2 linked regions of the Homo sapiens genome follow. The protein of the gene in region 2 interacts with the protein of the main gene of each other region in a pairwise test. Each region holds a gene or a part of one and is shown on either strand. Other genes may lie near its edges.

Region 1 (3,826 bases), on a different chromosome or scaffold from region 2:
CACCACCCGCCCGATGACTCTGCCCTGTGTGCCTTCCCTATCCGGGCCATCAACTTGCAGATCAAGGAGCGCCTGCAGTCCTGCTACCAGGGCGAGGGCAACCTGGAGCTCAACTGGCTGCTGGGGAAGGACGTCCAGTGCACCAAGGCGGTAAGGAGGCACACACCTCGCTCTGCTCCTGCTCCATGACACAGGTTCCAACCTTCCTGTCCATGCCCTGGGGCACATCTGCTCCCACACCACCATGGACCTGAAATGAAAGAGGTTTTCAGACTCAGGTTATCAGGTGGTAACCAATAACGCAGGGTCTTACGTACACCAGATACTTGAGATATGTGTGTTGATTTGTTGTCATTTCAAATATATGTATTGAGTGCCTACATCACATCAGGTGCTATTGTAAATGCTGCAGGCTTCAGCTGTGAACCATACAACCCTACAAAGCTCACTGCCCTCATGGAGATTACACGCTAGTTGGGTGAGACAAATGAACACATAATACATGTTAGTTTGCCAAATGGTGATAATGGCTATAGAGAAAAATAAACAGGAAAGGGGGAGAGGCAGTAGCTGAGAGGACTGACTCATTGAGAAAGTGGTGTCTAAGCAAAAACTGAGGATGGGAAGAAAGGGAGCCACACAAGTGTCCAGAGAAAGCATTCCAGAGAGAGAAAGGGTGAGGAGAATGTGCAAAGAATTCAGGGCATGCCTGGAGTGTCTGAGGAACAGTAAGGAGGCAACTGCAGCCAGATCAGAGTATGTGAGAGAAAGAGCAGCAGGTGATGGGGTCCATCAGAAGTAATGGGGACCAGGTCATGTACACACAGAGCTGTAGGCCACTGTGGTTCCCAGTGAGGGGGTCAAGTGGAGATCAGAAATCTAAGTCAGAGGAGAGGGAAGGGAGTCTGGCTTGACCAACTGATGGAAAACTGGAGAAGAATCAGGAGTGTGGGCAAAGGCAAAAGAGGAGAGGATGAAAAGCTCAGAATCCAGACCTGAGGAAAGCAGAGACAAGAAAATCAGTGGCAAGCACTGCCCTGTCAGCGGCTCATGGTGCTGCCATCAAAGTATTCATGATCCACTCTTCTTCCATCATTCATCCAACCATCCAATCATCCATTCATTTATCCACCCATCTCTCCTTTCATCCATCCCCTTTCCTTCCCTCCTTTTATTCTCCTATCCATCTATCCCTCCATCCTCCTTAGCTCTCTCCCTCCATGCATCTCTCCATCCATCCATCCATCCATCATCCATCCATCCATCTATTCACCTATTTACCTAAACCTCCATTCATCTGTCCCTGATCCTTCCCTTCATTCTTTCCTCCATCCCTTCCTCCATCCCTTCATCCATCTCTTTATCCACTCATCCCTCTTTTTTCTCCCTTAATCTATGTCTCCATATCTTTATCTATCCATCATCCATTTGTCTACCTAGCCCTCCATCTATCCATTCATCCCTCTCTTTATTCATCCACCATCATCCATCTACCCATCCCTCTATTCATTTACAAGTAGTATTGAAGATCTTCTGAATGCCTGGCACTGTACTAGGCACTGGGGTTGCAAACATAAAAAGACATGATCGGCTGGGTGCGGTGGCTCACACCTGTACTCCCAGCACTTTGGCAGGCTAAGGTAGGCAGATTGCTTGAGCTCAGGAGTTCGAGACCAGCCTGGGCAACATGACAAAACTCCGTCTCTACAAAAATTCCAAAAATTAGCTGGGTGTGGTGATGCACACCTGTAGTACCAGCTACTCTGGAGGCCTGAGCATGGGAGGTGGAGGTTGCAGTGAGCCAAGATTGTGCTACTATACTCCAGCCTGGGTGACAGAGTGAGACCCTGTCTCAGAAAAAAAAAAGACATGATCACTAGTCTCACAGATCTTATAATCTAGTAGGGGGAAGAGAGAGAGAGAGAGGAAGAGAGAGAGAGCTAGAGACAGCTGGCAACATAATGTAGTGGCTCAGAGTTTGAGGTTCTGAGACAAAAGCCAGGCTTCAAATTCCATCTGTGTTTCTTCCTGCCTTCTTCAGAAGCACCTTAGCATCTCTACATTCTTATCTGTGAGATGGAAATAATAATGCCTAGCTCATGGGATGATCAGATGAGATAATACATGGAGAGATTAGCACCATGCCTGGAAATGTTAGGTTTATTATTACACAGGGAGTTAACAGGGAGTGTGAGAAGTGCAAAAGTAGGTTTCTTGTACACAGTGCTGAGGGCTCTGGATCTGCAACCTAGAAAAAAATATATGAGACCAAGGGGCCCATACGGCTACCTTCTGAGTACTCTAAATTGAAGGTGCCTGCCGTTGGGACCAAGCACCAGTACTTGAAGCAAGAAAACATCATTCCAAGGCTACGCTTCTATTCCTGTCATCATTTGCTTGGTGTGGTAGAAGAGTCGTGGTTAAGGCTTTGAAGTAAACCAGATGGGGATTAAAAATCAGTCCTACCACTTACTCCTTGTGTGACTTTGGGCAAGTTATGTACCTGGTCTGAGCTGTAAATTTTTCGTCTTTAAAATAGAGATAATATTGTCTTCTTTTCATGGTTATTATGAGGATCAAATGGAAAATTTATGTAAAGTGCTTAGCACAATACCTGGAACATAATAAGCATTCAATAAATGGGCCGCTATGATTATTAATATTAATCACAGTAGTAAAGAGCCAGCTATTTTCTTAGTTATCTTACTGTTGTAAAATGAGGAAGCTAGACTAGATAGTCTTTGGTTTTTTTTTTTTTAACGCCAAAATTTTATGGCCACTGGCCGTAACCAATGTGGAGAGGTGGAGAGGAAATGTAACCCTCCGTAAGGGTTAAATGCTTGCAGAGTCCAGCCTAGTTCCCATAACCCAGAGGGGGCCTTGTCAGGAGGAAACTGCTGATTCCTGCCTGCTTCTGAGCCAGAGGAAAGAGGAAGATGACACTCTTCTCTGCTCCAGAGCAGAGGGACAAGCCTGGGCTAGTTACAAAAGGATAGCAAAGGCACTGGGAGAGAGGTGACAGTGAGTGGGGCCAGGACCTTAGAGTGGAGAGCCCCTTGCCTCCACCCCTTCAGCACCACACCCTTCTGGTGCAAGGGCTGCAAGAGGAATGGCCCCTTAAAGACCCTGATACTCCAAAGAACTAAGACCCAGGGACCCAGAAATATTTTGGTGGCCTTAGAGGGGAATAAGGATAAATGAAAGAAGCTGTGGTCCCAGAGCTTGATTTTAACATGACTCTGGAATAACATGGAAATCTCAGATCAAAAATTTGAGCTCTGATCCCAGAAAAGAGAGGAAGAAGGGGGCTATCACTCATTGAATAGCAGCTAGTCCTAAAGGCTAAGCTTGGCAATTTAAGTGTTATCTCACTTGCTCCTCACAATGACCCCATAAAGCAAGAGTTATCTTCCCCATTTTACAGATTAAAAAACAAAGGCTCACAAAGACTAAGTAAGTTGCTCAGATCTCCACAGCTATAAGTGATAAAGCGGGGATTTGAATTTAGTTCGGCTGTATTACTTCTTAGTCCAGTCTCTCTCTATTGAGCCCTTCTGTTTCCAAGGAAAGCCATACACCAAGCTCTCACCATTTGAGCAAAAGTAAAGGTGCATCAGGTGTTTGGGAATATCTAACAATATATTGAAAAACAACTTGAGGAGGAAAGAAATTCCAGCCAATCCTAAGGGCTTAGGCTGAGAATAAATCTTTTTTTTTTTTAATAGTTCTGGAGATACTAGAATCAATAAGACAGTAGCAAAATCTAGGATTACCAGGTTTTTGCTTCTGTCATCATTTCTCAAAAGCTGACTTGGGCTACGCCTGT
Region 2 (3,826 bases):
TGAGGTCTCACTATGTTGCCCAGGCTTGTCTCGAACTCCTGGCCTCAAGCAATCCCCCTGCCTTAGTCTCCCAAAGCACTGGAATACAATTGTTACTAGATCTTTCCACTTTGTCATATATATCTGAAAGGAGTGACAAACCTCACCAGATATAGTATTCACAGATAAGAATCATGTTTATGGTTCTCTTATCAAAGGCAATCATTGCTTAATAAAGATTCTATGACTTCATTACCCTTAATTGAGGGTAGGCCTCCAGTGTAAAATAAAATAATAAACATGCTACAAGGTGAACAATCTAAAAAAAGATTCTAAAAATATTTTCACTCACTGGCAAATCATATAGGTTTAAAAATTAAGTGTTTAACTATTATAATCTTCTAGAGCTTAACATGACTTACATTAAAAATCAAGTAAGTTCTTCCTCGACACAATTAATTTTGCATATAGTATGAAGAACATTAGACTTGAAATTAGGAGGCTTGGGTTTTGGCCCCAGTTTTGCCATTAACTCTTTAGGATTAGTGTCATTTCATGTAAAATGAGAGGGTAGAATTTAAAATTTCTAAGTATGAATATGTAAGAACTCAACTCCTGACTTTATTTCCAAGAATTCAATCTCTTTTTTTTGTACACTATAGTATCTTAAGTTTCAAAAGGTAAAATTATGTCGCTTGCTAATAAGTTTCCAATTCCCTTTATATATCTGAAACTAAGAACCTATTTTTATAGAAAACTACCCAATACAACTAACTTTTGTGCTGTGCTTTTCATTTTACAAAATGCTAATAACAATTCTGTATGGGAGGTATTATTATTCCAATTCTACAGAAAACTGAGTTCGAAGAATTGTTAAACATAACCCTTTTTAAAATAATCCACATTTTACTAAATCTATAGTTTAAAAAATGGCTCAGTGAACATTGTTTCTTATAGTTAAATTGATTCTGAAGATGTCTTGGAATTATAATTCAGCTAAACAAAAAGGGAGGGGGGCAGTTTAGTATTGTTCAACCAGAAGCTGCTACTTGTAAGCAACAGAACTAGAATTCATATGATATTTTCTAACTCCAAATACCTCATATAACATATTAAAACACCAAGCCATATTAAATCTTAAAGTCATATTATGACTTTGAACAGTGAAATTTAAAACATATGCAAAGATTTTTAAATAATACATATAGAGGAGAGGTAATAATAAATAAAAATAAGGCCGAGAGTGGTGGCTCATACCTGTAATCCCAGCACTTTGGGAGGCCGAGGCAGACAGATCACCTGAGGTCAGGAGTTTGAGACCATCCTGGCCAACATGGTGAAACCCCGTCTCTACTAAAAATACAAAAATTATCTGGGCATGGTGGCGCACCCCTGTAATCCCAGCTACTGAGGAGGCCAAGGCAGGAGAATTGCTCGAACCCAGGAGGCAGAGGTTGCAGTGAGCCGAGATCATACCACTGCGCTCCAGCCTGGGTGACAGAGTGAGACTTCGTCTCAATAAATAAATAAATAAATAATCAAGTTATACAGTCAAAAAAATATCAAAAGGTCGAACAAACTTACTGGATCCCAAAAGTATGTGGAAAGCTTAAACACTGGCATTTCTTTTCTCTATTAGAATTCTTTAATATTACACTTTAAAAACATGAAAGAGCAATTTTTGCAAATATCTTCATTTAAGCTTATATTTCTAATCAAATTTCTCAAAATGCATATGCCCAATTTATACTATCAGCTGAAGTGCTCTCGATTTTTTAGGAACCAACTCAGCACAGCTAGCACAATTATCAAAATAATCCTTTCTAATTCAAAATTTAACATTTGATTGTTTTATTAACTTAAACGTTTTATCTGCTATGATACTGTAATAGTAAAAGTTTTTCTACAAGTGCCAGAAGAATTTAGAGTAACTAGCAAACTATCAGGGCCAAGTTACAAACAATGGTTAAGGTAAAAACTGAAATACTCACTTTATTATTTTGTGTCACAAGAATACTCCCACCCCCAGGTTTCAAAGGCACCTCTTCCATTGCTCCAAACACATCAGTCTCAACAGAAAAAGTTAGTTCTAGACCCAGATCACTTATATCATTATCTAAAATCCATTGCAAATTTTTCGCATATTCTGGATCAATGGATGCCACATCTTGGTAATTTACAGGAATACCTAAAAAATGCAAACATACAGCAGTTATAGTCTGGTTTTGCCTTCCCTTATCTATTTAATGGTAAAATACTGCCCTCTACAGATATTCTGAAAAACTGCAAAATATAATACAATCCTACACACAGCATATTTTAAATGGATTCCTGAATTTGAAAGTCTGTTAAATTAATTCTGTGTTTCTTTCACATTGTTACAATGTAATCTTTCTTTGAAATAACTATTCAGGAAGTTATTATAAACTTCAAAAATGCCAATTATCTTAAGTATACTCACACTGAAATGTATTCTTAGCATAAAAATACACACACAAAAATTGAAAAAAAAAAAAAAAGGCTAACTTAACTAGAGGTGTTTGGAAAAAAAAAAGGTAGGTCATTTTTTTCTCCTTCAAACCCCGAATGGCTTACATATACAGATGGGCTCCAATCAAAATAAAAATTATCTCATCCAAAATACTACTGCTTATCTAGTTTTCCTCAAACTGAAAAAAAAACAATATAAATAAATGTCTGCAGAAATAATAATAGAGCCATACCAAGAATGTGCTTGTAGAAGGATCGTGTGAAGTAAATATTGACCAGCTGCCTGTGGTTCAACGCTAATCCCAAGATCTGCCCAGCAAACCGAAAATAGTTCAAGTGATCAGGATTTACATAAGAGTTGCTATTAGGCTGAAAAGTTGTTCCTATTGAAATAAATACAAAATAATATATTATTAAGAATCTATATGCAGAAGAAAGATTACTTCGATGCAGATAAACTAATTCACATACAACTTCAGCAAAGCTAAGGTTACATTATGTATAAACTTCCAGAGAAATGTTCTTTGTGGAAAATATAACAAGTGGTAAGTAGAATTGGAAGTATAGATGATAATCATTTATTCATACATATTTGTCACAGTAATCTATGGCAGAGAGAAAATTTTAGAGTACTTTTGACTGAAATTAGTTGGAAGATCATCAGAGACACTCTGGAAATAATACAGCAGAGGATCATATACACATACACATACACACACACACACGCACATATACACAGTTTCCTAGGCAGTATGGCAATAGGCTGTTCGCTAGGACAGACATTATCCCATTCATCTGTATGTGCCAGTGCAGTAAGTATTTGCTAGTTTTTGCTGCTTCAGGAGTAGAACACTATGAGAATAACTAAAAACTGTAAATGTACAACTGCTCTTAAGTGACAGGCCTAGTCAATGAACTTGATGCCTGTTAACAATGATTAGAAAATCACCTCAGTCCACAAGGTAACCAAGTCTTTCTAATGGCAAACAATTAAGTTTAAACAATTACCTCTGAGGTGAAAGTAAAAATGGCAAGGGCAATAAGTTACCAATTACTATGAAAATCCAGTGCAATGGAATATGAATCCACTTTTATAAAATATCTAGAATAGGCAAATTTATAGATAGGTAAAGTAGATTAGTAGTTACCTAAGGCTGAGGAAAGGGGATATGGGAGATATTGCTTAACGGGTACAGAATTTCTGCTTGGGGTGATGAAAAAGCTCTGAAAATAGATAGTGGCCGATGGTTGCACAACACTGTGAATGTACTTAAATGCCACTGAATTGTACACTTTCAATAATATAAATGGTAAATTTATATGTGTATTTCACCACCGTAAAAAAAAAGTCTCAAAA

The links.
Region 1: the proteins of HACE1 (region 2) and PLXNA2 interact in a two-hybrid assay, tested with the Homo sapiens proteins (one large-scale study listed by IntAct).

What each region holds. Positions count from the first base shown.
Region 1 is NC_000001.11:208,213,059-208,216,884, reverse strand, and holds part of PLXNA2 (plexin-A2 precursor), read left to right. Parts: coding exon 1-150; intron 151-166; exon of another isoform or gene 167-250; intron 251-3,826. UniProt on the Homo sapiens protein: Coreceptor for SEMA3A and SEMA6A. Necessary for signaling by SEMA6A and class 3 semaphorins and subsequent remodeling of the cytoskeleton. Plays a role in axon guidance, invasive growth and cell migration.
Region 2 is NC_000006.12:104,769,223-104,773,048, forward strand, and holds part of HACE1 (E3 ubiquitin-protein ligase HACE1), read right to left. Parts: intron 2,853-3,826; coding exon 2,703-2,852; intron 2,168-2,702; coding exon 1,971-2,167; intron 1-1,970. UniProt on the Homo sapiens protein: E3 ubiquitin-protein ligase involved in Golgi membrane fusion and regulation of small GTPases. Acts as a regulator of Golgi membrane dynamics during the cell cycle: recruited to Golgi membrane by Rab proteins and regulates postmitotic Golgi membrane fusion.